6 separate regions of the Homo sapiens genome follow, and all the other regions are linked to region 1. Evidence: fine-mapped expression QTL. A gene starts in region 1. Each other region holds a variant in brackets. All regions are shown on one strand. Distances are from middle to middle. Region 1 holds the start of NME8 (NME/NM23 family member 8). Region 2 has its middle 42 kb from the start of NME8. Region 3 has its middle 100 kb from the start of ELMO1. Region 4 has its middle 94 kb from the start of ELMO1. Region 5 has its middle 21 kb from the start of NME8. Region 6 has its middle 90 kb from the start of GPR141.

What was found. PIP is the estimated chance that this variant, and not a neighbour inherited with it, causes the effect.
Region 2: its variant is the best candidate, but not a certain one, in a credible set for the expression of NME8 in whole blood (TOPMed, PIP 0.55).
Region 3: its variant is the best candidate, but not a certain one, in a credible set for the expression of NME8 in whole blood (TOPMed, PIP 0.54).
Region 4: its variant is the best candidate, but not a certain one, in a credible set for the expression of NME8 in whole blood (INTERVAL, PIP 0.57).
Region 5: its variant is the best candidate, but not a certain one, in a credible set for the expression of NME8 in neutrophils (BLUEPRINT, PIP 0.51).
Region 6: its variant is the best candidate, but not a certain one, in a credible set for the expression of NME8 in whole blood (INTERVAL, PIP 0.76).

The regions. Positions count from the first base shown.
Region 1 is chr7:37,845,543-37,850,618 of GRCh38, forward strand. It overlaps NME8 (NME/NM23 family member 8), which reads left to right and starts at 3,055. Exons shown (of 18, transcript NM_016616.5): 1 at 3,055-3,186; 2 at 3,282-3,514; 3 at 4,718-4,757; 4 at 4,836-4,893. The coding sequence starts at 4,725.
Region 2 is chr7:37,803,690-37,808,765 of GRCh38, forward strand. No RefSeq gene overlaps it. Among named protein-coding and RNA genes, the nearest start is that of NME8, 42 kb to the right of the region's middle. RefSeq lists an enhancer at 1-421. The variant G/A (reference allele first, on the strand shown) is at 3,103.
Region 3 is chr7:37,547,389-37,552,464 of GRCh38, forward strand. No RefSeq gene overlaps it. Among named protein-coding and RNA genes, the nearest start is that of ELMO1, 100 kb to the left of the region's middle. The variant A/C (reference allele first, on the strand shown) is at 2,843.
Region 4 is chr7:37,540,165-37,545,240 of GRCh38, forward strand. No RefSeq gene overlaps it. Among named protein-coding and RNA genes, the nearest start is that of ELMO1, 94 kb to the left of the region's middle. The variant C/T (reference allele first, on the strand shown) is at 2,112.
Region 5 is chr7:37,825,357-37,830,432 of GRCh38, forward strand. No RefSeq gene overlaps it. Among named protein-coding and RNA genes, the nearest start is that of NME8, 21 kb to the right of the region's middle. The variant A/G (reference allele first, on the strand shown) is at 2,094.
Region 6 is chr7:37,591,566-37,596,641 of GRCh38, forward strand. No RefSeq gene overlaps it. Among named protein-coding and RNA genes, the nearest start is that of GPR141, 90 kb to the right of the region's middle. The variant G/C (reference allele first, on the strand shown) is at 2,607.

The DNA.
Region 1 (5,076 bases):
TGCAATTAGTAGTAATGATGTAAAAAAACAAAAAAACAAAAAAAACTAATTACACCTTCCTTCCATGTATTGGCCACTGGTAAATGTTTGTTCTAATTTGAGAATACATTGAAACTTCTTGCATCAAAGTGTTATATGAAGAATTTGCCTGAAATATTTGCATGAGCATTTCACCATGTGAACTATTGTGTTGAATCAAAGAAGAATCAAAAGTCAGTTTACTAACAGTCTGACTCTGGTGAAATAGCAATTATAGGAAATACATAAAACTTCTTTGAAAATAGCAGATGGTTTTAGACCCTTGAGGAATCGCCACACTGTCTTCCACAATGGTTGAAATAATTACACTCCCACCAACCGTGTAAAAGCGTTCCTATTTCTCCACATCCTCTCCAGCATCTGTTGTTTCCTGACTATTTTTAATGATCGCCATTCTAACTAGTGTGAGATGGTATCTCATTGTGGTTTCGATTTGCATTTCTCTAATGACCAGTGATGAAAAACTTTTGTTCATGTGTTTGTTGGCCTCACAAATATCTTCTTTTGAGAAGTGTCTGTTCATATCCTTTGCCCACTTTTGGATGGGGCTGTTTGTTTTTTTCTTGTAAATTTGTTTAAGTTCCTTGTAGATTCTGGATATTAGCCCTTTGTCAGATAGATGGATTGCAAGAATTTTCCCCCATTCTCTAGGTTGCCTGTTTACTCTGATGATAGTTTCTTTGGCTGTGCAGAGGCTCTTTAATTAGATCCCATTTGTCAATTTTGGCTTTTGTTACCATTTGACCCAGCAATCCCAGTACTGGGTATATATCCAAAGGATTATAAATCATTCTATTATAAAGACACATGCACATGTATGTTTATTGGAGCACTATTCACAATAGCAAAGACTTGGAACCAACCCAAATGCCCATCAACGATAGATTGGATAAAGAAAATGTGGCACATATATACCATGGAATACTATGTAGCCATAAAAAACGACGAGTTCATGTTTTTTGCAGGGACATGGATGAAGCTGGAAACCATCATTCTCAGCAAACTAACACAAGAACAGAAAACCAAACACCGCATGTTCTCACTCATAAGTGGAAGTTAAACAATGAGAACACGTGGGCATAGGGAGGGAAACATCACACACTGGGGCCTGTCAGGGGGTGGGGGGCTAGGGGAGGGATAGCATTAGGGGAAATACCTAATGTAGATGACAGGTTGATGGGTGCAGCAAACCACCATGGTATGTGTATATCTATGTAACAAACCTGCACTTTCTGCACATGTATCACAGAACTTAAAGTATAATAAAAAAAAAAAAAGGAAAGAAAATTGCAGATGGTGAAGTGAAGGAGTACTACATGTCCTGTCTTGATAGGATATGATCCTGGTCAAAAATCCTTCTGTAGGTAGCCGTGCTCATCTATTAGGTCCACTCCAGGGATGAGGATCCCTACAAAAAGGTTCATTGTGTCCCTCTCTACTCTACAGTTGCTTTCTGTATCTCAGCCTGTGGATTAATCAGAAACTATTGTGAAAAATTATTTCCAGATGCTGCAAGTGGGAGGGAGGAAGGAAAGTAAAGAGAAAAAGAACGAAAGAGAAAGAAAGAAAAAGAAGAGGAAGAAGAAGAAGAGGAAGAAGAAGAGGAAGAAGAAGAAGAAGAAGAAGAAGAAGAAGAAGAAGGAGACGGAGGAGACGGAGGAGACGGAGGAGACGGAGGAGGAGGAGGAGAAGGAGGGGAAGAGGAAGGAGAAGAGGAAGGAGAAGAGGAAGGAGAAGGAGAAGAAGAAGAAGACGAAGGAGACGAAGGACACGGAGGAGACGGAGGAGACAGAGGAGACAGAGGAGGAGGAGGAGAAGGAGGGGAAGAGGAAGGAGAAGAGGAAGGAGAAGAGGAAGGAGAAGTGGAAGGAGAAGAGGAAGGAGAAGGAGGAGGAGGAGAAGAAGAGGAAGAGGAAGAGGAAGAAGAAGAAAGAAGAAGAAGAAAGAAGAAGAAGAAGGAGAAAGAAGAAGGAGAAGGAGAAGGAGATGGAGGAGACGGAGGAGGAGGAGAAGGAGGGGAAGAGGAAGGAGAAGAGGAAGGAGAAGGAGAAGGAGAAGAAGAAGAAGAAGAAGGAGATGAAGGAGATGGAGGAGACGGAGGAGACGGAGGAGGAGGAGGAGAAGGAGGGGAAGGGGAAGGAGAAGAGGAAGGAGAAGTGGAAGGAGAAGAGGAAGGAGAAGAGGAAGGAGAAGGAGAAGGAGGAGGAGAAGAAGAGGAAGAGGAAGAAGAAGAAGAAAGAAGGAGAAGAAGAAGAAGAGGAAGAAGAAGAAGAAAGAAGAGGAAGAAGAAGAAAGAAGAGGAAGAGGAAGAGGAAGAAGAGGAAGAGGAAGAAGAAGAGGAAGAAGAAGAAGAGGAAGAGGAGGAAGAAGAGGAGGAGGAGGAGGAGGAAGAGGAGGAAGAGGAGGAGGAGGAGGAAGAGGGAGAGGAAGAAGAGGAAGAGGAAGAGGAAGAAGAAGAGAAAGAAGAAGAAGAAAAAGAAGAAGGAAGAAGAAGAAAGAAGAAGAAGAAAAGAAGAAGAAAAGAAGAAGAAGAAGAAAAGAAGAAGAAAAGAAGAAGGAAGACGAAGAAGAAGAGGAAGAGGAAGAGAGAAGAAAGAAGAAGAAGAAGAAGAAGAAGAGAAGAAGAAGAAGAAGAAGAAGAAGAAGAAGAAGAAGAAGAAGAAGGAAGAAGAAGAAGAAGAAGAAGAAGAAGAAGAAGAAGAACAAGAAGAAGAAGAAGAAGAAGAAGAAGAAGAAGAAGAAGAAGAAGAAGAAGAAGAAGAAGAAGAAGAACAAGAAGAACAAGAAGAACCAAACCAGGGTAGATGAAGACAAAGTTAAAAAGAAAGAAAAGGCTGGTGCTGGCAGAGAGCCTTCTGCTCCGATTTGAGGTGTATGCATTTTATGCTGTAAAGCGTGGCCAGTCACAGGAGGATTCAAAGGCGAGGAGAGATATGATCAAATCTGCACTTGGGAAAGCGCACCTTGGTGCGCATCTGGGGATAGAGGAACGTAGGGATGGGAGGATGGGGGATGGGAGTTTGGGGATGAGGCAGCTGAAGAACAGAGTCTTGTGATGGTGGAACCAGGACTTCGTTGTTCCTTCATTGTGTGGGCAGAAGAGGTGGAGGATTTTAGGCGCCACCTGGTCTTGTCCCCACTGCCCAGGTATAGCTGCTGTCTGGAGCAGGGGCCTCGAGACGCCGCTCAAGTCTCACGGGCAGATGGGTTGGACAAAACATTGCCCCCCTTCTTCTTCCCAGACAGGCAGGGAATCCCTCTTCTTCCTTTTGCTGAATCAGCTGGAGAAGAAAGCCCAGCAGGAGGCCTGCTAGCCTCAGCCTCGGGCCCTACCAGGGTCCTAGGTACTGGAATGGAACTTCGCCGAGGTCACCGCTCAAACGGCCACAACGAGGGAGCCGATTTAGATCCTCTGGGCCTGTTCCTTCCTTTTCTTTAAACGTCCCAGTCTAGCTTAGAGGAGGACCTGTTTTGTGTAAGGCTTGCCGGAGCAACCAGCACCTTTCCTGGAATACAGTCTTGTTTGTGGCTTTTCCTTTGTTGTACGCTAGCGTGCACTATCGCCCGCACGCTGACTGACCCCTGTTCTACACCGCCCCTGATACCACTGAATAGGGAGTTTGAGAAGTTTATGTCGTGCCCCAGAAAACACTAGTGGCCTTGTTCTCAAGATTAAATATCCTTAGAGCAGCCAGATCTGAAGAGGGACCCCAGAAAGATCCACGGGCATGTTCATTTGTTTGCAATTGATAATATAGGAAACACTTTCTAATATTTCAGGAAAACAAAACCTTTAAAAAAACCAGACGACGTGTAACTCCTAACATTCTTACCTTGCTTCAGGACTGTTGGGAGGATAAGATAGTGTGGCAGCTATAAGCATTTAGCATAGAGCCTAGCATACAATAGTCCTTCCATGACATTAGCTTCTCTCTCCCCAGCAAAGATGACACTGCATAATCCAATGTACAGTGGGGAAATTTTTCACTAGTACATTAAGATGTTATTTGCAGTTAGAAAGAATGAATACTGTAATCCCAGCACTCTGGGAGGCTGAGGTGGGAGGATCACGGGTCAGGAGGTTGAGACCATCCTGGTTAACACGGTGAAATTCTGTATCTACTAAAAATACAAAAAAAATTAGCCCGCCGTGGTGGCGGGTGCCTGTAGTCACAGGTACTCTGGAGGCTGAGGCAGGAGAATCGCTTGAACCCAGGAGACGGAGGTTGCAGTGAGCCCAGATTGTGCCACTGCACTCCAGTCTGGCAACAGAGTGAGACTATGTCTCAAAAAAAAAAAAAAAAAAAAAGAACAATGAATAAGACCTAGTATTTGCTAGCACAAACAGGTGACTGCAGTCAAAAAATCTAAATTGTACATTTTAAAATAACTAAAAGAGTATAATTGGATTGTTTGTAACACAAAGGATAAATGCTTGAGGTGATGGATACCCCATTTACCCTGATGTGATTATTATGCATGGCATGCCTGTATCAAAATATCTCAGATTTAAATACACAAATATTTAAGTACATAAATACAGAGATACATAAATATATACACCTACTATGTACCCACAAAAATTAAAAATTGTTTTAAAAGATGTTATTTGCATGCATAAAGAAAATGTTATTTAAATTTCCTACTTAAAAATTTTTCTTTCTTTTTCCTATGATAGTAGATAAATGGCAAGCAAAAAACGAGAAGTCCAGTTACAGGTGGGTCTGACATATCAACAATTCTTTATCTGGTGCACTAGTGCTTGAATACCTTTTACAGTGCCTTCCACTTTGCAGACAGTCATCAATAATCAAAGCCTGTGGGATGAGATGTTGCAGAACAAAGGCTTAACAGGTATAAGGACTCCCCGGCTGTCTGGCCACCTGGGGTTTGACCCGGAGCTCCTCCTGGCACCCTGTCCCTCTAGAGTCCCCACTTTGACCAAGAAATCCTGCAGTGCCTTTGCCCTGGCCATGGCTCCAGATTGGGATAACTGCTATCCTAGATTGGTAGACTTTGTTATTTCATAAATATCAT
Region 2 (5,076 bases), 42 kb before region 1:
ATACACATAAGTATACATAATTGAATGCATAGTTGCTATTATTATTTTAAACAAACTGTGCTGTGGAGTGAATGAAGACACTGATTGTTTTGCTTGTACCTCCAGCACACTGAAGCCACCATATTCAAAGGAGTCCAGTCTGTCTTCCTGGTGAGCCCCTGACCTCTCTGCTCTTCATCCCCTGGCTTGGACCTGCAGCACAGCCATCCTACTTCCACCTGAATGTTCTCATTGGCAGCAGCTCCATGTCTTTCTGGGGTGGAGTTCCCCGAGGCAACTGACAGCCCCCTATAACTGCCACTGCAGTGGATGCCCACCCTTGCTGCCACCAGACTGGGCAAGGAACAAAGAGCCCGAGTGCTTTATTCACACCTCCATGCCACAGCTGCTCTATGGAGAAGAGGCCAGACTGATTTTACAGCAAGCCTCCAATCCTCCAGCTCTTCACCGGGAAGGGCCGCCTGGCTTGAGGCCCACAATGCAGCTGCCCCACCCCCAGCTGATCATTTTGATTGGTAGCAGCTCTGTGCTTCTCTGGGGTGAATCCTTCAAAGACAAGTGAAAGGCCCTCTGCCATTGCCACTGTCAAGGTCCCCACCCCTGCCACCCCCAAGCTAGGGAGAGAACAAAAAGCTTGAGTTCACAAAGGGGCTACAGTGCACAGCCTGGGAGTGCCAAGCTGAGATATATGGCCAACACTTGAGTGGGAGAGGGGCCCACACTCTCAGAGCACTGAGAGAGAGCATAGCTGCAATTGAGGAAATACAGAGGAACCATGTGGCTGGGTAAGAGCCTATCTACCAGCCATTACGGTTAAGTGCCATCTACTGGATGGAAGCCCAAACTTTAACACCAAAAATACATTGCTAACATACCTCCCCATAAAATTAAGGACAAGAATTCAGCCACAAATAAAGACCCTGCACAAAGCATCAGCCCTCTGAAAACATCCAGAAACAAATTCAACTGACTGTACTCAAATTACACCACAGTTAAAGGCACATCAGCCCACACAGATGAGCAAAAACGCAGGGAACTCTAAAAGCCAGAGTGTTTTCTTATTCCCAAATGACCACACTAGCTCCTCAATGATGTAGGAGTTAAAAAGAAATTACTTAGGCAGACAGTGAGGTAAGAAAGTCTTTAGTAAGGTTTTCCTTTTAATGAAAAGCAGCCCCCAAATCATTTTCTTTTCTAACAAAGAGCAACCTGTAAAATCGAGCTGCAGACATAGAAAGGCAAGCTAGAAGTTTGCACGGGGAAGTGATGGCAGCTATGCCAGTAGGAAAGGAGCTACCTGGGGACTAGGCATGTTCAAAATGTCAGCTCCTTCTTTCCTTTTCTTTGCCAAACCATATGTACAGTAAGGCGAAGACAACATGGCGCTGACAGGGCAAATATCCCATTTGCATAATAAGATTAGGGTGGGGAAGCCAGCTTCCTCACATGCTATGTAAATGTCACCCTAGTCTAATCAATCTTTGGGTCCTATGTAAATCAGACACCGCCTCCTCAAGCTTTTTTATAAAATCCTGAGCACTCCACTGTGGGCCAGAAGTCCCATTTGGGCACCCCTCTCTAAAGCAGGAGAGAGAAGTGTTCTCCTTTTTCTTTCTTTTGCCTGTTAAACCTCCGCCCCTAAACCTACCTCTTGCATATGCATACTTGATTTCCTTGGCATGAGATGATGAACCTTGGTTATTTACCCCAGACAATGATGCCGCTTCACCAGTGATGGTTCTCAACCAGAATGAAATGGCTAAAATGACAGACATAGAATTAAGAATCTGGATAGCATTGAAGATCATTGAGATTCAGGAGAAAATTGAAACTCAATCCAAGGAATCTAAGAAATCCAGTAAAGTGATTCAAGAGGTGAAAGGCAAAATAGGTATTTTAAGAAAGAACAAAACTGATCTGATAGGGCTGAGAAACTCACTAAAAGAATTTCATGACACAATCAGAAGTATTAACAGTGGAATAGACCAAGCTGAGAAATGAATCTCAGAGCTCAAAGCACAGTTCTTCAAATTATTTTAATTTCAAACTATTTTAGTCAGACAAAAATAAAACAACAAAGAATTTTTAAAATGAACAAAACCTTTGAGGAATGTGGGACTGTGTATAGAGACCAAACCTACAACACATTGGCACCCCTGAAAGAGAGAGAGAGAGAGACCAAGCAACATAGAAAACAAATTTGAGGATATTATCCACAAAAATGTCTCCAACCTCACTAGATAAGTCAACATTCAAATTCAGGAAATTCAGAGAACCTCTGTGAGCTACTTTACAAGACAAACATCCCCAAGACACATAGTCATCAGATTCTTCAAGGTCAATGCAAAAGAAATTATGTTAAGGCAGCTAGAAAGAAGGGGCAGGTTAACTATAAAGGGAACCCCACAACATTAACAATAGACCTTTCAGCAGAAACCCTACAAGTCAGAAGAGATTGGGGGCCTATATTCAGCATTCTTAAAGAAAAGAAATTCCAAGCAAGAATTTCATATCCAGCCAAACTAAGCTTCATAAGTGAACGAGAAATAAAATCTTTTTCAGATAAGCAAATGCTAAGGGAATTAGTTACCACTAGACCCGCCTTACAAGAGTTGCTTAAGGGAGTGCTAAATATGGAAGTGAAAGACCACTAATGGCCACCACAAAAACATACTTAAGTACATAGACTATTTACACTGTAAAGCAACTACACAATCAAGTCTACCTAACAACCAAGAACATGATGACAGGATCAAATCAGCACACATCAATATTAACCTTGAATGTAAACAGGCTAAACACCTCACTTCAAAGGCAGACTGGCAAATTGGATAAAGAAACAGGACTCATAGATAGCTCTTATTATTTTGAGATACGTCCCATCAATACCTAATTTATTGAGAGTTTTTAGCATGAGGGGTTGTTGAATATTGTCAAAGGCCTTTTCTGCATCTATTGAGATAATCATGTGGTTTTTGTCTTTGGTTCTGTTTATATGCTGGATTACATTTATTGATTTGCGTATATTGAACCAGCCTTGCATCCCAGGGATGAAGCCCACTTGATCATGGTGGATAAGCTTTTTGATGTGCTGCTGGATTC[G/A]GTTTGCCAGTATTTTATTGAGGATTTTTGCATCAATGTTCATCAAGGATATTGGTTTAAAATTCTCTTTTTCAGTTCTGTCTCTGCCCGGCTTTGGTATCAGGATGATGCTGGCCTCATAAAATGAGTTAGGGAGGATTCCCTCTTTTTCTATTGATTGGAATAGTTTCAGAAGGAAGGTACCAGTTCCTCCTTGTACCTCTGGTAGAATTCGGCTGTGAATCCATCTGGTCCTGGACTCTTTTTCGTTGGTAAGCTATTGATTATTGCCACAATTTCAGCTCCTGTTATTGGCCTATTCAGAGATTCAACTTCTTCCTGGTTTAGTCTTGGGAGAGTGTATTTGTCTAGGAATTTATCCATTTCTTCTAGATTTTCCAGTTTATTTGCATGGAGGTGTTTGTAGTATTCTCTGATGGTAGTTTGTATTTCTGTGGGATTGGTGGTGATATCCCCTTTATCATTTTTTACTGCGTCTATTTGATTCTTCTCTCTTTTTTTCTTTATTAGTCTTGCTAGCGGTCTATCAATTTTGTTGATCCTTTCAAAAAAACAGCTCCTGGATTCATTAATTTTTTGAAGGGTTTTTTGCATCTATTTCCTTCAGTTCTGCTCTGATTTTAGTTATTTCTTGCCTTCTGCAAGCTTTTGAATGTGTTTGCTCTTGCTTTTCTAGTTCTTTTAATTGTGATGTTAGGGTGTCAATTTTGGATCTTTCCTGCTTTCTCTTGTGGGCATTTAGTGCTATAAATTTCCCTCTACACACTGCTTTGAATGTGTCCCAGAGATTCTGGTATGTTGTGTCTTTGTTCTCATTGGTTTCAAAGAACATCTTTATTTCTGCCTTCATTTCATTATGTACCCAGTAGTCATTCAGGAGCAGGTTGTTCAGTTTCCATGTAGTTGAGCGGTTTTGAGTGAGTTTCTTAATCCTGAGTTCTAGTTTGATTGCACTGTGGTCTGAGAGATAGTTTGTTATAATTTCTGTTCTTTTACATTTGCTGAGGAGAGCTTTACTTCCAACTATGTGGTCAATTTTGGAATAGGTGTGGTGTGGTGCTGAAAAAAATGTATATTCTGTTGATTTGGGGTGGAGAGTTCTGTAGATGTCTATTAGGTCCGCTTGGTGCAGAGCTGAGTTCAATTCCTGGGTATCCTTGTTGACTTTCCAATATCATACTGAATGGGCAAAAACTGGAAGCATTCCCTTTGAAAACTGGCACAAGACAGGGATGCCCTCTCTCACCACTACTATTCAACATAGTGTTGGAAGTTCTGGCCAGGGCAATCAGGCAGGAGAAGGAAATAAAGGGTATTCAATTAGGAAAAGAGGAAGTCAAATTGTCCCTGTTTGCAGACGACATGATTGTATATCTAGAAAACCCCATTGTCTCAGCCCAAAATCTCCTTAAGCTGATAAGCAACTTCAGCAAAGTCTCAGGATACAAAATCAATGTACAAAAATCACAAGCATTCTTACACACCAATAACGACAAACAGAGAGCCAAATCATGAGTGAACACCCATTCACAATTGCTTCAAAGAGAATAAAATACCTAGGAATCCAACTTACAAGGGACATGAAGGACCTCTTCAAGGAGAACTACAAACCACTGCTCAAGGAAATAAAAGAGGATACAAACAAATGGAAGAACATTCCATGCTCATGGGTAGGAAGAATCAATATCGTGAAAATGGCCATACTGCCCAAGGTAATTTATAGATTCAATGCCATCCCCATCAAACTACCAATGACTTTCTTCACAGAATTGGAAAAAACTACTTTAAAGTTCATATGGAACCAAAAAAGAGCCTGCATTGCCAAGTCAATCCTAAGCCAAAAGATCAAAGCTGGAGGCATCACGCTACCTGACTTCAAACTATACTACAAGGCTACAGTAACCAAAACAGCATGGTACTGGTACCAAAACAGAGATATAGATCAATGGAACAGAACAGAGCCCTCAGAAATAA
Region 3 (5,076 bases), 300 kb before region 1:
ATTAGAGTTGCCTGGGGACATTTAAAATCTCCTGCTATCCAGATCAGATTTCAGACTAAATAAATTAGTCTCTGGGTGTGGGATCCAGGGATTAGTATTTCTAAAAGCTGTCTAGGTGATTCCAGGGCACAGGTCAATTCAAGAACCACTGTACTCAGTGGTAAAATCCTGATGAGAGTGGGTATAGTCATGAGCATTACCATAGTGCTTGGTATAAATTGGCATGCAATAGAGCTCGTGGATTGAATGAGTTGAATGAATGAGGCTTTGGCTTTGCAGACCCTGAACTTTGGTTGCCAGCTCACTCTTGGGGCTATTAACCAAAAAGTGACTGAGGCAGATCTCAATAGATAGAGGTTTATTTAGCCAAGGTTAAGGATGTGCCTGGGAAAAAATACAAGTCACAGGAGCATCTGTGACCTGTGCTTTTTCCAAAGGTGGTTTTGGGAACATCAGTAAAGGGGAAACAATAAGCAGGAAAGAAAAAAAAGGAAGAGGAGGCAGGTGGTTACATTCTTGGGAGGCTCTGATTAGGCTCAGTAAATCTACAGTTTACATGTGAAAAGAGGGGCTAGAGAAAAAGTCAATTATATATCGTCTTCCACTCAGTAAATCGTACACTTTACACAACATAAAGTGAATGTCCAGTGCAGTGGCTCACACCTGTGATCCCAGCACTTTAGGAGGCCCAGGTGGGAGAATCACTTAAGCCCAGGAGTTTGAGAGCAGTCTGGGCAACAAAGCAAGACCCTGAGTGTTAAAAAATAAAAAAAATTAGTCAGGCACAGTGGTACATGGCTGTAATCTCAGCTACTTGGGAGGCTGAGGCAGGAGGATCCCTTGAGCTCAGGAGATCAAGGCTGCGGTGAACTATGATTTTACCACTGTCCTCCAGCCTGGGTGACAGAGCAAGACCCTGTCTCAAAAACAAACAAACAAAAAGCTAAAGCAAACATGTGAAAAGAGGGAATAGAGGGAAAAGCCAGTTATACATTCATCTCAGGGTAGACAGAGGGATGATTTCTGGTCTTGTCCTTGTCCTGTGAAATTAAACAAGCAATTGACATTGTCAGAAAGTAATTCAACAGAATTTGGTTTTAGGGTTAGTTTATGGGGTGATATATATACTAAAGCAGGGGTTGGTCCCCAGCCACCAGTCCATGGACGGGTGCCATTCGGTGGCCTATTAGGAACCGGGCCACACAGCAGGAGGTGCGCTGTGGGCCAGGGAGCATTACCGCCTGAGCTTCACCTCCTGGCCGATCGGCAGTGGCATTAGATTCTCATAGGAGCACGGACCCTATTGTGAACTGCGCATGTGAGGGATCTAGGTTATGTACTCCTTATGAGAATCTAACTAATGACTGATGATCTGAGGCGAAGAGTTTCATCCCAAAACCATGCCTCCCCCTTGCCCCAATCCGTGGAAAAATTGTCTTCCAGGAAACTGGTCCCTGGTGCCAAAAAGGCTGGGGGACTGCTGTCCTAAAAGATTTAGGGGCTCACAGGGAATTTCCTTGTGAGCAATTTCTGCAGGAGGCCATTGGGGAGGTATGTGGCCTTCTATTGTCCAAGCTTAACTTTCCCTTTGGTGTAGTGAGTCTGGGATCACGAGATGGTATTTTCTTTCACAGAGGATCAGGCCTTTGGGTACCTGAGGCCCTGACATTTCTCTTCAGCAGAAACCAATTCATTTGATTTTCAGAAAATGTGACCAAGTTACCCAGGTACCTTTATCACCCTTCCTGCTCCCCAGCTCCCCACCATCAGCCCATTCTTTTCATAGGCAGGAAGCCTATTTAGAAAGCCAAATTAAGATTAGATAAGAAAAGGAAGGAAGTTGAATGTTGTTTTTATTTGGCTCTGATGCCCAGAAAACGTCAATTTTGTGCTATAAAGATCCCTGAAACTGCATATTCTTGACATTTGAGATGATTTATCTGAAAGCGCTTTGAAAACCATAAAGCAGCATTACTGTTATTACTGCATTTCACTTATTCCCATAACAAGGCTTCATAGGGTCTTTATGATTGCCATAGGTAATGGGAATTTAAGGGGCAAAAAGGGCAGCCACTGCCCCCGGGGGACAGAGTGGGGTGGAGTGTCCCGTGCACAACTCATTGGCATGCAAGGTGGGAAGTCCAGGAACTGGGAACTCAGGGAAAGGAGTGCTACTCCATGCCTCTTTCCTCTGGATTCTGAATGCCTTAAGGGCAGAGGCCAACCTATTTATCCACATTTCCTCAAGGTCTGATGTAATACTTGGCACATAGTAATTATTTGAATGATGAAGATAAATTATGGGCCATTTGTTAGTTAGGATTCTTTGAGTTCCAGGTAATAGAAAACCAGCTTGAGTCCGTCTAAACATGAAAAGATTTATTGGAATGATCAGGGTGGTTTAGAAAGTCAACACCACCATCAGAATAGAAAAACAGCACCTAAAAGCAGAACCTGGGGAAGGCTGTGCCCAGGGCTCTTCTGAGAACTTCTCATGCCGAAACCTCGGGCACCCGCAGGGTCACTCAACCTCCACTGCTCTTGTTTGTGTTGTGTTCATTCTCTCCTCCTGCAGGTAAACTGGGGATATGCAGTGGGCACAGGTGAGAGAGAGGAGTTTGGCGGCACTGGTTTCCCAAGACACAGGACACAAGACCCCTCCAATAAAACAGGATGCAGTAGAGAAGCTGAGCAAAACCTACCAAAACCAAGAAGGCAACAGAAGTGGCCTCTGGTTACCCTTGCTGCTCATTATATGCTAATTATAACACACTAGCAGGCAAAAAGGCACTCCCACCAGTGCCATGAGGGTTTACAAATGCCATGGCAACCTGGCACCCCA[A/C]TCCCCACCCCCAATAAATTACCCGGAAAACTCATGAATAATCCACACTTTGTTTAGCGTATGATCAAGAAATAAATCATAAAAATAGCCAACCAGCAGCCCTCAAGGCTGCCTTGCCTATGGAGTAGGCACGTTTTTATTGCATTACTTTCTTAATAAATGTGTATTCACTTTACTCAGTTGGCTTGCTCTTGAATTCTTTCCTGCATATAGCTAAGGACCCACTTGGCTTCCTGGGCTGACCCCAATTTTGGGGTTTGCCCTGTGACACAGGGGAAGCTGGTGGTTCTGAACTCAAAGTTTTCGAATCTTATCTCAGGAGAGGGAAGAGCTGTCTCTTCTGAGCTTTATTTATACCACCCGGGGGGAAGGACTCTGGCCCAGGAGGAAGAGGTCACCAGTCACTGAGATAGACTACAGGGGTGTACATGTGAGAGCACGGTATGGGGGAAGAGGCTCCTCAAAGAAGGCAGATTTTCCTAGAACAGCACCTGCTGGCATGTAGTGGTTATAAGAGACCCCCTGACTCCAAGAAAGCAGATAGGATTAACAGGCTGTGACTCTTAGTTGCAGAATTTTTGGAAAGGTTCAATAAGGTCTAAATGTCCCTCTGTAGATAGACTAAATTATAAAAGTGAAGGAGAACTTTTGCAAATCCTAGGCTGAAAGCCCTTTGTTTATAAATCATGCTTACTTGCTTTTATGTTTCTACCAAAATTAGGATGACATTTGTTCCAGAGTGTCCCAAATCTGATAAGACAAGATTATGACTGTAACTTTTGGCCTGAATGAAATAATAAGAGTGCAGAGACGGGTGCCCTGCCCTGGTATGAGTTGTTCTGATGACTCACAGAGTTTTGGTGGCTCTAATCGGTGCTCTAGCATCTCTGGAGTTAGATGGCTCTGCAGCTGAAGAAGCCTCAATCCAGGGGTGCAGGTGCTATTTAAATATTTCCTGGTACTTCCTTTAATAGGGCATGGGAGAGTGAGAACCTTGAATAAGTCTCTATTTCTTATTATAGTTCTGAAGTTTGCAGTTTATTGCAAACAAAAGACTCCAAGGTTGTCTTGCTCAGAATCAGGAGGGCTCTGGTTGGTCTTAGACCAGTGGTGTTTCCACGGTTCTTTCTGATGATCCAAAGTTCTAGAAATTGTTATGCACATGTCTAATTGAAGAGACAACCTGAACAGGCTAAATGTGAGCAACAAGGCTGTTTATTCACTTGGGTGGAAGTGGGCTGAGTCCGAGAAAGGAGTCAGCGAAGGGTGGTGGGAGGGGAACTGGTTTTATAGGTTTGGGGTAAGTAGTGGAAAGTTATAGTTAGGGGCAGTTTTTTTGGGCAGGGGAAGAATGTCACAGGGTGCATAGTCACAAGGTGGGAGGAGGTCACAATGCACGATATCACGGGGTCAATTGATTATTTAGGGTAGGGCAGGAATATATCACATTGGTGGATTGTTGCAAGGTTGGTTAATCAGTTAAGGCAGGAACTAGCTGTTTCTTCTCCTTTAGTGCTTCTCTTGTTGCTCCAGGCTTTGTGACTGCAGGAGGCCTGTATGTGTGGGTCACAGGAGTCACAATGGCTCAACCATTGTGTAGCCTGTTCAGAGGACCTTACAGAAACAAGGCAGAGAGAGCACTGGCTTCCCCCAAAGTGAAGAATTGGAACTTGCCTCTCTGACAAGAAACTTCTGTGAGAGTTGGGACTGTGGAGGAAGTGACAGGGCAAGGATTCTGTTCCTGAAGGTTTTCACACTGGCTGTGCACGTTTGGGGTGGCAAAGTGATGCAAGGGACAGAGGTCATTGAGTCCTGTTCACAGGAGGCCAAACATTGCAGACAATGCATGGAAAGCAGAGATTCCAGGAACAGAGTAGATCCAGAACAGGTCCTCGACCCTGTAGTAGGAATGAACAAAGAAAGGCCCCAAAGGGGATTTGAGATCTGGGTCCAAGAGACTGAATAGAAGCTAAGGTGGCTGAATAGAGCTGTCAGCGGGAGGGCTGAGTCAAGAATACAAATGATAGTTGGGTAGATAACCAGGTTGGGAAAATGAGCTGGGGGTAGACTTCTTTACATTTTCTCAATTGTGGTCGCCTAGGCTAGTGACCCAGGAAAACACAAAGGCAGTAGCGTTCATATAGTTCTTTTTAAATAAGGCTGCTTTCCTGAGGCAGGCTTTGCAGCCAAAGTTCCCATGCAAATTTCCACTGAGTGTTGCCACATTTTAAATA
Region 4 (5,076 bases), 310 kb before region 1:
AGGAAGCTCTAATTATCTCTTTCTTATAACAAAAAACTGGTGTCTCCCAGATTTTAAGTATTGGTCTACATCACTACTCTTGACACACATGGCCAAGAGTAGACTCTAGTAATATACAGTATTGTTTCATAATACCTAGCAAGCAGAATTTTTGGCCTAGTTTTTTTCCCTCACATTTCTCATCATAACACAGGAGCCAGATGACATCTTAGTCCCTTGCCATGTTCTGTGACAGTGGGGGAAGACCCAGCTTACAAGACAGCTGGTTCTATTTTTCCAGGTGAGGTCTCAATGTAAAGAAATGGCTGTGGATGAAATGAGAAGTGGAGGTGGAATGTACCAGTTTCAAGGTAGGGGATATGGTTGGCTATATGATGAATTTTAGATTTCCTTGGTGTGTGCAAGCAGTATACATCATTAGAACAAGATAGGATAGGGGCAACAGCGTCTGAAGATGTGAATGGTTTCTACCACTTGTTGTTACTGTGAATGCTCTTCCTGTGGATTGAAATTCAGAGGCTATAAAGATGACATTTAAGAAATGACCCCTTTTGTGCATTATCTGTTGCAAGTTGGGAGAGGAAAGTTTCTTTTTTTATATGTTTAGTTGACACCTAATAATTATACATACTTATGGGGTACAGAGTATTTCCATACATGCATATGATGTTTAGTGATCAAATAGGTAATTAGCGTATCCATCAGCTCAAACATCGATCCTTTCTTTGTGTTGGGAACATTCAAAATCCTCTCTTCCAGCGTTGGACCACATACAATAAATGATTGTTAACCAAATTCCAAATTCACCCTGCGGTGTGAAGAGGAAAGGTTCTTTGTCGGACATTATTCCAGGGCACTTACTTGCTGGCGTGCTCCCTGCCTCTCCTGCTCCATTCCTCAGCTGCCAAGTGCTGGCAGGGTTGTGTGTGCAGTTGCAAGTTGTCACTTGGGTAATAAAGGAGAAGGAGCATAGCTTGGCAGACTCTCCGACATGGCCATGTGCATCCTGCGCAAATAGAATTATGATTAATGACTAGCCTGGCAGCTGAATTGGACTAGAGAACTTGGCCGAGGTCAAGGTAGGCCCAAGGAGCAGCCTGGGTGAGGCTGTCTGAGGGCGGAGATGGCGCAGATGAGGGGCAAGGCCCAAAGGAAGGCAGGCAGGGGGTGCTGATTACTTGGGGGATCCTGTGTAAGGAGGGGATCTGCAGAGCAGGGGAGTTGGGAAGGGTGGTAGGGATCTGAGCCCATGTCCTATGCACAAGGCCTGACTCCTCCTGTGGCCAAGCTTGAGCTGCTCTGCTGCCTTTGTAGGCTGCTGTGTTAGTTTCCTCCAGCAGCCATAAAAGTTACCTCCATCTTGATGGCTTAAAACAGTTATGAAGGCCAGAATTGAAAGATGAGATTATTGGCAGGGTCTCACTCCCTCCTAATGCTCTAGGGTAGAACCCTCCCTTGCCTCTGACAGCTTCTAGTGCATGTCAGCATGCCTCGGCTTCCCTGGATGCATGGCTCCAGTGTGCCTCAGTGGCCACAGTCCCTCCTCCTCCTCATGTGTCTTCTCCTCTTCTGTCTGTTACAAAGGTACTCGTCATTAAATTCAGTGCCCACCTGGGTAACCCAGAATGATCTGATCTCTTCATTACTTCTGCAAGGACCCTTTTTTTGAAAGAAGGTCACAGTCACAGGTTCCAGGGGTTAGGAAATGGACATAATGTTGGGGACCACCATTCAACCCATTACAGTTGCTGAGAGAATTGTGAGGGCCTAAATCTGTATTGGTTTTTAAAAAACTTTTTTTTTTGGTTTCAGTTGAGACCACACATATTCACTGGGCTTGAATTTGCATGTGGTGTTCAGTGGCAGGCAAGCCAGCTTTCAGGATGTCTGTTATCCAAAGCTACACTCTTAGGGCACCTCCAGATGACTCTCGGGCTTTCCAATCTGATCTTCTGCTTCTCCCCCTCCACGTGTGCCCTTCATCTTGTGGTAGGCAAATCAGACTCAATACCTACGGAGAAAGCAAAGGACATCAGTGACCATCTAATTCACATGTGTTACAAATGATTGACACAACTCTAACTGACTCTGCCCTAGACTCCTAACAGATA[C/T]TAATTATCTACTGTGACACCAGTTCAGACAGAGCCTATCTATGATGGTTAATTTTGTGTCAACTTGATGGGGCCACAGGATGCCCAGATGTCTGATGAGCATTGGAATTGGTATGCTGGGGAAAGCAGACTTCCCAGTGTGGGTGGGCCTCATCCAGTTCATTGAGGGCATGGATAGAACAAGAGGGTGAAGGAAGGTTGGATTCACCCTCTCTCTGTCTGACTGCTTGAGTTGTACATCAGTCTACCGCCTGCTCCTAGTTCTCAGGCCTTCGAACTCAGACTGAAATCTACACTATTGGCTCTCCACCTCTCAGGCCTTCAAAACACAGTGCTGGAATTCCTGGGTTTCCAGAAAACACAGCACTGGAATTCCTGGGTTTCCAGAGTGCAAATAGCAGATCCTGGGACTTCTCAGACTCTGTAATCAATACGTTATAAGAAATCACACACACACACACACACACACACACACACACACACACACACACACACACACACACGTTCTATTGGTTCTGTTTCACTGGAGAACCGTGACTGATACAGAGCTTCAGACCTCTCAGTCCAGGCCTCAGTAGCTGCTGTCATGGGTTAGGGATAGCACACAAAATGAAATCTCTGCCACTTCTGACCCAAAACGAGCCTCATTTCATAGATAAGGAAACTGGGGCCCATGGAGGATGAGATAATTGAAAGGTGGTTGTCTATTCAAGTGGTATTTTAACATTTCATTTCCCATGTCAAAAAAAAAATAAGATGAACAGCCTGTAGATTTCCAAATCAGGATTTTTTTGACTTTAAAAACACCTAATATTGAACTGATTTTCTTCATATTTTTTAATAGCTTCCCAAGCCACATAGAAACCTGGAGCCTGTCACCCTACCAGTGTGACTTATGACATACTGTACAGCCACTCTGTTCCATAGCTTTCAGGATCCATCTGTTAGCTCATATAAAACAAAATTTCTATTAAATGGGATTTTAGAAATATTATCATGGCCCAAATTGAACATCATGTGATGGAAAACAAAACATATGTTGGCAATTTTGCTTTTGATTATTGGATTGGGGTGATTTGAGTTCCAAAGGGGAAAGAAAGAGCTCCTCTCCAGACCTCATTGTGATCCTGCCAGAGTATTGTTCCTAACACCTCCATTTATTTTTAACAATTATTGTAATTATTACTTTTATACATTATAAAAGTAATATATATAAATAAATTAAGAAATTCTTTTAATCATTTACATTTTATTTTTAATTATTATGGGCATATAATGGTTGTATATATTTATGGGGTACATGTGATGTTTTGATACAGTCATACAATGTGTAATGATCAAATCAGGGTAATTGAAATGTCCATCACTACAAGTGTTTACCATTTCTTTGTGTTAGGAAGATTCCAATTTCACTCTATTAGTCTGTTCTCATGCTGCTAATAAAGACATACCTGATACTGGGTAATTTATAAAAGAAAGAGGTTTAATTGATTCACAGTTCCACATGGCTGGCAAGGCCTCACAGTTGTGGCGGAAGGCGAAGGAAGAGCAAAGTCATGTATTACATGGTGGCAGGCAAGAGAATGTGTGCAGGGGAACTGTCCTTTTATAAAACCATCAGAACTTGTGAGAATTATTCACTGTCATGAGAAGAGCACAGGAAAAACCTGCCCTCGTGATTCAGTTACATCCCACCAGGTCCCTCCCATGAGGCATAGGGATTATGGGAGCTATAATTCAAGATGAGATTTGGGTGGGGACACAGCCAAACCATATTATCTACTTTTTTAGTTATTTTACAATATATAATAAGTTATTGTTAACTATAGTTGCCCTATTGTGCTACTGAATACCAGACCTTATTCATTCCGTCTTAACTGTATTTTTGTACCCATTAACATTCCCCACCTTGTCTTCCCCTCTCTGCTATCTTTCTCAGCCTCTGGTAACCATCATTCTACTCTTTATGAATTCAACTTATGTTTTTCTCTTAGCTCCTGCCCATGAGTGAGAACATGTGACATTTATCTTTCTGTGCTTAGCTTATTTCACTTAACATCATGTTCTCCAGTTCCATCTAAGTTGTCGTAAATGACAGGATCTCATTCTTTTTTATATGCCTCCATTTCTTGAGAGCCATTCCCATCCAACTCTGAGTGGCTAAAATGCTGACTTCCTTAGAAATTTGAAATTCTCCCATTTAGACCTGTTGTTAAAAAAGAACAGCTCAAAAACATTATATTTGATACAGCTTTTCCAATAACAGTTCTTTGGGCTGCTACAATTTGGAGAAAAGTTGAGAAAATAGGAGTGAGCATTTCAAGTTTGAAAAAGAAAAAGAAGAAATAAGGCTAGAATTCATTGTTAGCTTGGTCTGTTTACTCCCAAGGATAATGCCTATTTGATGCAATTGAGCAAAGGGACATTGATGGGGGGATTCTGAGGCAGAAGACTCCAATTTACAATATTCAAGGGGCCATATACAATATTCTGTCGAAGCCTCTACAATGACCCTATGAGATAGCTGCTGTTGTTTCCATTTTACAGAGGAAAAAAAAGTATGAGAAAATTATTTGTCCAAGGTCAGCTAGTAAAGGGCAAGGGAAGTAATGGATTTACAGTGGTGTCTTCTAATTAAGCAAGGTATCCCAGTAGGAATTCATGGTAACTCCTGATGCTTTTCTTATTCTTGAATAGGACATTTCCCTAGGGGAAAACGCTACAAGTAAATTAGAATCAAATGTTGAGGAAAGGAGCAGAGGAAAACTATCATGGGACCCAAGATACAAAAAGGCAAATAACAGAGAAGGGGTTGGAGGACTGTGTGATAAACTGTATTCCCTTCACCCCCACACTCCAGCTAATCTGATTTTGTAAGTTGTACAGGCGTTGTTAATTACATTTTGACTATATTTTGAGTAATGATTAGAACTACCATACTAGGTGCTTGGCAGTATCTAGGATT
Region 5 (5,076 bases), 20 kb before region 1:
CTGTTTTTGTATAAGGCCCAAATTTATTATCAGGCTTATTGCACTCCCTATGCTGCAGCCAAGCTTGCCTTTCCAGGCTTGTCATGCCCTCACATGAATTCCTCACATCAGGTAAAGCATCAAATCCACAGGCACCTCCATACATCTGGCTCTCCCATCCCTGTGACTACACTTACTTCCTGCTGCACCTTGAAGTCCCTTCCCCCAAAATCCCTTTATCTCCATCTTCCTCCCTCTATGCTCCATGCTCAGCTCCACCTTATTGTGTTCTAGTCTTACCTCTAGTCCTTTATGGACAGTGGCGGGAGTGATTAATTACTCCTATGCATCTGTTGCAAGAACTCATATGCCAGGATTTCAGGATGCTCCTTTTCTATCTCCAGACTGATTATGAGACTCCTCTTAACCAACTCCCCTGTCATCTTACCTGTGCCTCTATTGCAGTGACTGTCATTTGGCAAGCTATGACATAGTACCAGACAGGGAAATCATAAAGAGAGAAAACTAAATTATACTTCTCTCTGTGTCCTCATGCTCTAGAATAATGCCTTGCTGTTCAATAAATATTTGCCAGGGAATAAATGAATGAAGAAATAAGCTGAGCAATTTCCTAACATTTTTCCCTTTAGAAAACAGAAAAAAAGGTTGAAATCTGAACTCATACCTGAACCAATCCCAGTTGACCATTTTCTACTAGTGACATTAGTGTTGCCATTGAAATAGTATAAACATAAAATGAAAGTTTGATAAAGTCACCTCTGATAAAAATACATAATATATAACATGTATAACATCACAGAATATATATTATATACATGTGTATTATAAGAGCTGTCTTTTTTATCTTATATATGTATATACATATCTTACATATACATGTATGTGTGTATATACATGTGTGTGTATATCTATCTATAGATACACACATGCACACATATATACGATAAGAAAGGAGCTTAACAGGCAGTGATATGTAGATTTCTCTCCAATGAAGCCTGAAATTATTTTGCGTGAACAACTACAAATGAGATGTGTTACTTTTACTGCGGACTGTTTACATGAGCATAAACTGGATGCTTTAATCCTTTGTTATTTTTTCTTGCATTTCATACAAATTTTTAAATAGTTGTGATTACAGATTGACTGGATAAAGTCACGGCCAATGGATATGGATTTTTAAAATGGTAACATTTTTGCACCACAGGGATCCTCAAAGATGCTTGTAATAGAAATAATTTGCATAAAGACGCTAGAAAAGTTATTGAAAATATAAGCTATTTAAATACATAAAATGGAGAAAAACAATATATGGAAAGGCTGTATTTTTTCTTTCGGTCATGCTAGAGGAAGCGCCCCTCCTCTCATCTGACGTATTTTCTTCACCTGCACCTCCCATCTTCTATTTCTTCAACTTCTACTCTCCTGACTGTTAAAAATCAGCATTTAAATATAGTATTATAGTCAAACTTCTTCCTCCTTGTTTAAAAAAGAAAAACGAGCCCTCCAGCACTCACATTTTTTGGGCAACTGTCTCTTCTCTGTTTCCATTTCTTCACCCTTACGCTTCTGGAAATAGTTGCTGATTCTGTCTCCACCTCCTGTCTTTATAGTCTCTCAAGGGACTTTCCCAGACCACGCTACTGAAGACACTCTTATGATCACCACTGGCATCTTTGTTGCTCAGTCCACGTGAGTGACATTTTATTTGGCCAGATCTTGTTTTATTTGGCCACTCTGTAACACTTGGCAATAGTATTGCTGCCTCAGCAGCATCTCATTCTTTGATTTTTATGACATCACTTCTTGGTTCTTCTCCTGCCTTTTTGGCTGTTCCTCCTCATTTTCCTTCATCAGCTTTACTTTCATGACCTGTTCCTGAAAGTTGATGTTCCTAGCGTATCCTCCTGGACCCTCACTTTCTCAAACTACACAAATTTCTTGGCCATCTCCTCTGCTTCTATTCCCCTAATGTGCTGATTATCAACACATCTATATCTCCAGCCCAGGTATTTCCTAAGTATCTTTCATATCCAGTAGTCTCCAATGTGTTGTGTACGCCTTGCCTGGGGTGTGCAATATAAACCTATGAGGCT[A/G]CACAAAGAAAAATACATGTATATTTTTGTTGATTTTCTTATCTGAAATATGAGAAAAGATAGTGCTAATTTATTAATGGTTATCATATGCATCATCAGTAGTGTCCTCAATGGCTTTTCGTCCTCCTGTTTCCAGTTCGCACGGACACACTTTGTCTCTGGTTTTTCAACCACCACACATATGCAAAGGTACCAGGAAGCTCAAGGTTTGTTGAGTGTCTCCTACAAGGAGCTGGTCACATAGGAACATCCCAGCTATTGGTCAGCCTTGACCATTAAGCTCCCTCTCCCTCCTTATCCCTGGGCTCCAGCAAAACCAGGTGGTATAGGTCTAAATCCAGTTATTATTCCTGAGCAATGCTGATAAACTGGTATGTCCACTCCAAAACAACTCGCAAACCAATGGTTACAGAATATTATTTACTGGTTATCTCATGGCAAAGTTCATTTTTATTTTGTAAAAATAAAATGTTTTAAATTTGAGGACACGTGGCTGTCTAAATTTTGCTATCTAAGAGGTATATTTGAAAAAATTATCATCATTATCTATTCCCCCAAGATTAAAGTGATGTTTTGAAACAGTGAAAAAATTACTGCTTTTTGAAATAACTCATGGTGAGGAGGTGGAAATGTATGAAAACCAATATTTGAAATTTTTCTATAATTAACATGGCTTAATAGTGAAAATGAGCATGACTTATAAACCCGCTCACAATTACACCCTTAAAATACCTTAGCATCACAAATTTTCTATTGTGTTAAAAAATTTCCCCAAAAGTTACATTTTTAAGTCATTTGTCAAATGCAAACCCCTCCCATTTATTTGGTAGAAAAAGCAATTTAGATTTTTTAGGATGTTGAAAAGTTACAGAGTAATTGTAACAAAAGTCTTTTCATAATTTTTGGAAGATACTGAAAGATAAATATCTTTTGTTTTAAATGGCATTTTCTTGTGAGAAAGTATTTTCAGCATTGAAATAAATTTAAAACTTAGAAGCAGGCATTTGAATCACTCCATCACACAATATTAAATCAAGATTTCAAAAACAATGAAATCATATTTCAATTACATTTCTCACTAAATATTAATAACATTAATATTTGTTTAAGCATTTAAATATTAATAACATTAATATTTGGAGAAAGCCATGAAGTTCTGAACTAGTACGTAATAAATAAGACGCAACAAGTAAAAAATAGCATATATTTATATATTTAATCAGATCATAATCTGAGTTAACGTTTTTGTTGTTTTTTAACTTTTTTTTTTTTTTTTTTTTTTGGTAGAATCAGGGTCTCACTATTTTTCCCAGGCTGGTCTTAAACTCCTGGCTCCTGGGCTCAAGTGACCCACCCACCTCAGCCTACCCAAAGTGCTGGGATTACAAGCGTGTGCTACCACACTCGACCCATTTTTGGTTTTGTTTAAGCATTATAACATGCAGAAGTGATGAGTAATAGGAAAAATATTTAATCTATTAAGACATAAAGATATCTAATTTGATGTGCAGGTTTAAATAGTTTTACTGGTGTAAATGTGTTGTCAGGTACCTCCTAATCCTCTTGTGGATCCATATACTTTCTTCTGTTTTTCCTTCAGTCTTGCAGCAGACCACCCATCTCACTTTGATTCCCCCAGTTTTTCTGTTTTTCCATCCTGTCCTCTCTCCTTCAACCCATTCTCCAGTCCCAGTCAGAGTAGGGTTTCTAAAATGTAAAAATGAGCAGTCACTTTGCTCAGTAGAAGGCTGCGGTGGTTTTGCTTGCCCTCAGGCTGTATACCCAGTTCTTCATACCTCTCCCAGGCTCCTCCAGATCTGCCTCCTGCTGACCTTGTACCCAGCTGCAGCGACACCGAGCTCCTCACAGCTTCCCAAAGTGGGCTGGCCCCTCTCACGACAGGGTCATCGCACAGGCTCCCTCTGTGGGGGAACACAACGGGAGTCATTTCAACACCACTTTCTTCAGGAAGCCTATTCTGATCCTTGGTACTCCAAGCAGCTGTTGTCAATGCCTACCCCAGGTGATACCATGCCATACTGATTTTATTTTCCTGGATACTTAATCACAGGTAAAGTCACTGAGGCCACACAACCCTGAGGAGAAAATGCTTGAGCAGGCAGGATTTTGATGATATTTTGTGGATGATACTCCATTCTCAAACTGCCTACATTCACACTTCTTTTCACCGAGAGAAAATTAAGCCACTATGCTTTTAAACCATTCTTACTTGGGTTTTGTGTAACATGCAGCAACATGGAATTATTACGGATACAATTGGTTCTGACTTGTATGGATACACTTATAGAAAAACGTGTGAGGATATATTGAACAGCAAAGTACTGATTTTTTTCTTATTTTGATTTGTCTCTGATGAACACATATTTCTTTATGTAAATGTATTAGAAGGAATTAATAAGAATATGTTGAGGAACAAATAAATTGCCAAATCCCAGTGGCGTAGCACACTGATGGTTGATTTGTCCGTCACACAAAGGCCCATGCAGGTTAACTAGGGCTAGCTCGAGCCAGTGACTCAAAGATCCAGGCTCCTTCTGTCTTGTGATTATTAAGGGTAGTAAAGAAAAGAGAATGTGGCGGTGGCAGACCCCCTGCTAGAAACTGAAGGTGCCATTTCTAGTCACAGGCCACTGGCTAGACTACATCACATGACCTTGCCTGTCAGGAACTAGCATTGCAGACTTACCAGCATGACCGAGAAGGAAATGAGAGCATATGTAGGGAAGCACGCATTGTCTCTACCAAAATGAAAATGGAAGTTTAAAAATGCAAGTACTCATGGGAAAGGTAACACACTGCACATCTTAGCCACTGTCTTCCCTGACTGCAATGGCAGAGGGTAGAAGGGGAGGGAAGAGGTGCGCATATATGGAGGCGCATGTAGATTCTTTACAATTTGTCTCAGGTGAGGAAGGGTTAATGTGTGTGCTCAGATGTGCCAGTGAGTAAAGAAAAGAGTATG
Region 6 (5,076 bases), 250 kb before region 1:
CAAACACCACAGTCCATAGTCAGGACTTCTAGTCACACACAGGTGAATAGGAATTCTCTTTGGATAATGAAAGTACATTTGTGGTCAACTAAACCATCAACTTAAAATAGCAGCATACAGTCCAAAATCTCCAAAAATTTTTAGAAAACTACTAATGTAAACAGAGTCACCAATATTATGAAAACACAAGAACTATGTGAGGAAGCAGAGTTAATGGGGGATGCAACAGAAAATATTTACAAAAGAGGGCTCATAACTTGTCAAGAATGAGACAGAATTCTGGTCAATTAAAAACAAACAATAGGTAGATTAGATAGGGTAGTTGCCTTGGGTAAAGATGAGTTAGTGGTCTAAGAGACAGAAAGAAAAAGTCTCCCAGAACTCACTGCAGAAGGAAAAGTAGGCCGATATGGTTTCAAGAGGTTGGCCCCTGACTGTGCAACAAATTATTATCTGGGGCTTTGATGTATCAGTAAAGCTGGTGTGCAGGAAACTCCAGTTGAGGTGGGTTTTATATATTAATAGGGTTGGCTTAACTTTTTGTAGGAATTCATTTGTTTCATGTCATTTCCTTTTCTATGCTAAGGTTTTATGGCTGACCAAGAAAGTAAGAACCTAGGTATGGTTGACAGTGTGAATGGACCATCAGCCTCCACCATCTCCTGCTCACCATGGTTGAGCAGGTCATTTCTAAATACCTTCTGGTGGATGGCCATATAATCTGGGGCTCAGAACTGCTTTACCTGGCACCTAGTGAGGAGGAGGAGGCAAACTCAAAATACCTGCTCTGCTGGGGCTGATGCAGATGTTGTGTTTTACTAGGGAAGCTGTTAATTTTATGATAGCAAATCTGGACTGTTTATAGACAAACTCGTACAGGAGTTTGCAACAATTTCACAGCTCAGTTTGATGTTTTGGCAGATGTTATGGGAGCATTCTGCAAGATCATTAAAGCAGAGCTGTGGCAGAGTAGACATCCCCAGGGAGCCACCTGACCAAAGCGACTGCATTGCAGCTTGTCTGGACATGTCCCCAAGATGGGTCTTGTCTGAAAAAACCTTCCTTCATGTGATAAATAGGTGCTTTTCCCCTAGAGTTAACTTATGTGAATAAAGATGCTTATTTTTATGACAAAGTTTTCTAACATAACTGTGGCACATGTTAAAAGGAAGTTACTATTAAAAGAAATTTATTATTTTGGGGGAGCCACTGGCAGCCAAAATGGAGGTCTCTTTTATTTTGGAACATTTTGGGGAAAGGGATGAGAAATTGAACAGAGAGTAGGTTTCAACATTTCAAAAAGTGTGAGTTTTAAAAAGCCTTTATATAATGAGTCCATTTTGTTCACAATGATTCAGTTAAGGTAGAGACTGTTGAATGATTTACCAAGACCCTGACACTTAAAATGGGTGAGTTTAAGTGTTGTATTAGTCTGTTTTCATACTGGTGATGAAGACATACCCGAGACTGGGTAATTTATAAAGAAAAAGCGGTTTAATGGACTCACAGTTCCAAGTGGCTGGGGAAGCCTTACAATCATGGCAGAAAGCAAAGCAAAAGGCATGTCTTACATGGTGCTGGGCAAGAGAGAATCAGAGCCAATCAAAAGGGGAAACCTCTTGTAAAATCAACAGATCTTGTGAGACTTGTTCACTACCATGAGAACAGTATGGGGAAAACCACCCCCATGATTCAATTATCTTCCACTGGGTTCTTCCTACAACATGTGGGAATTTGGGGAGCTACAATTTAAGATGAGATTTGGGTGGGGACATGGTCAAACCATATCAAGTGGCCTTCAAGATTTTATGATTGGCTACAAACACTCAGCCTCCTAGTCAACCCTCCCAGGTCCCTAGATGTTATTGAGGCAAATTCCAAAGAGGCTTGGAACATTTTTGTGCATGGCACCAGACATGAGAACAATTGGCAAGGCCCACTATGTAACAGTTGAAGAAATGAGAACCTTTAAGTTAAAGGCAAAATTTGAAAAGTGTTAGAGCAACATTTAGATGAGATGTTTATTCTGGCTAAATATACGTATTTTTAAGAGACAGGGTCTCACTCTGTTGCCCAGGCTGGAATGTGCAGTGGTGTGATCATGACTCACTTCAACCTCAAATTCCAGGGCTCAAGGAATCCTCCTACCTCAGCCTCCCAAGTAGCTAGGACTATAGGCTCACACCACCACTCCCAGTGATACAGTTTGAATGCTTGTCCCCTTCAAATCTTATGTTGAAATGTGATCCCCAGTGTTGGAGGGGGGCCTAGTGGGCAGGTTTGGGTCATGGGAGCAGATCCCTTACCAGTGGCATTGCGCTGTCCTCATGGTAATGAGTGAGTTCTCACTCTGTTAGTTCACATGAAAGCCGGTTGTTTAAAAGAGCCCACAACCTCCTCCTCTCTCTCTGCTCCCTCTGTCACCATGTGACACACCAGCTTCCCTTGCCTTTTTGCCATGAGTAAAAGCTCCTCAAGTCCTCACCAGAAGCTGAACCGATGCCAGCATCATGCTTCTTGTCCAACCAGCAGAACTGTGAGTCAAATAAACCTCTTTTCTTTATAAATTACCTAGACTCAGTTATTCCCGTATAGGAACACAAAAC[G/C]GGCTAACAAAACTGGCTAACTAAAAAAATTGTTTTGTAGAGATGGAGTCTTAAATTCCTGGCCTCAAGTGATCCCCCCATCATGGTCTTCCAAAGCACTGGGATTACAGGCATGAGCCACTGCACCAGCCTGGCAAAAGATTTTAACATGGGCTCTGCCCAGTTTATATACTCAAAGAGTGCAGAGAGTTTTTTGTTTTTTAACCCAGATGAGCTTCAGAAGATCTGCACTCACGCTCCCAAAAGCCCCTGGTCAAGAAGTGTGGCAATGTGTTGGTGAAATTTCTGGAGTGGCCCCCAAAGTTGAACAATTAGATCAAGATCTAATTGTGGCTTTCCAAATAATGATTTGAAACCTTTAGCAGTCTAAAGATGAATAAAACTGGATTCTCTATTACAATCCCCAAAAATACTAATATGGCTTTCTAAATAATGATTTGAAATCTTTAGCAGTCTAAAGATGGATAAAACTGGATTCTCTATTACAATCCCCAAAAATACTTTAACATTTGTTTGCTTCAGAAGTCTGCATCTGACTATGTTTCACTAGATTGCAAGTTGGCAAGCTATAGCCCACAGGCAAAATTTGGCTTGCTGCCTGTTTTTATAAATAAAGTTTTATTGGAACACAGTCATACCCATTCATTGTGTATTGCCTATGGCTGTTTTGGCTTTACAATGGCAGAGTTCAATAGTCGTAACAGAGCTCATATGGCCCAGAAAGCCTAAAATACTCACTATCTTGCTATTTATAGAAAAAGTGTGCTGACTCCTACCTATAGCATCCCAGAACATGATACATGCTCCCTGAACATGTTAGTTCAAACTAGGGCACAAGAGTGGGGAACAACAATTTGGTACAAAATGTGAATGAGTGCATTGGTATAGATAAAACTAAGCTAAGCAACTAAACTATAAACTAAACTCATACTAAACTTTGTTCTGACCCCACCCTGTGGTGCCTCTAAAGCCTGCTGGGGTCACCGTTATGTTATCATCAGGGACACTCTGGTCCTGTTACAGAGAGTAACTATGGATGTGGAGTCTACCAGCATCCTAGCTGTATGAGATTTAATCCTCTGCATATCCACATATTTATGATGTAGCATCGGTTGGCTGGAAATCATCCTGTGCCACCGATGAGGTATGTCCTGGCTGAGGCACATCTCATCACCAACAACACATGAGCCAGGAGCTACGACATGGTGAGAGCCTCACTTTTCACACTTCTCACCATAGCTGGTAAGCAACCATCCTTTCAGCAGCAGCAGCATCACAATAAAGGCTGAGCAGGACCAACATATATTATTGAGAGTTGTACTTTGAAAAAGATGAACTATTTAATAGAAAGAAAAAAATGTGGCTTTCTAAATAGAGGAGAATTGTGGATTCACACATATTCATGGAACACTAAATATGTGTGGGGCTCATTTGGAGGCTTGTTTTGAAGGGCATGCAGGGTGACCAGCCATCCCTGCTTGCTGGCTAGCTAGGGGTGCCCTGGCATGTAGGGCTTTCTGTGCTAAAACTAGAAAAGTTCTAGGCAAACCAAGACAAATTGGTCACCTTAAGATCATTTCTTTTTATTTTTTATTTATTTGATTTATTTATTTTTTTAAATTTTAAATTTTTGTGGATACATGGTAGGTGTATATATTTTGTATATATTTATGGGGTACATGAGATACTTTGACACAGACATGCAACGCATAATAACCACATCAGGGTAAACAGAGTATCCATCACCTCAAGCATTTACCTTTTCTTTGTGTTACAAACAATCCAGTTATACAGTTTTAGTTTTTTTGAAATGTACAATAAATTATTGTTGCCTGTAGAAGGTAATGCCTTTTTAAAGAAAAAGTCTTGAGGTCACTAAAAAGCATTAAAAATAATCCTGGGGAGATGTGTTGGTGCATACTTAAAAAGCCACACACATTAAAAATATAGAAAAGAAAGAAATAGAAAATTAAGGGGTGGGTTTCAAGACTCCTGATGAAACTTAGGATATTTATGCCTCAGAAGAGCAAAAATCCCCAAGTGAACAAGTTAGCTTTTTCAGACTTCATAGGGGACACCAAGAGGAAGAGAGGAGACATCAAGATGAACAAATTATTCCTCCATAGATGTCTTACTCATCTCAGTCTGCCATAACAAAATATCATGGATGGAGTCTCTCTGGTGTCTCTTCTTATAAGGCCACTAATCCCATCATAAGAGCCCCACCCTCCTGACCTCACCTAAACCTAATTAGATCCCAAAGGCTCCAGTTACCATCCGTTTTTCTCCAAATACCATCACATTGCAGATTAGGGATTCAACTTATGAATTTTAGGATGGCACAATTCAGTCCATAGCAACAGGTTTTATTTAATTTTTTTTTAAATAGTAAATTTTAAAAAGATCTTATGCAAATGTCACTTGTACATTGAAGTTCAAAAATACCAAGTTAGATTTGGACCTTTAAAAG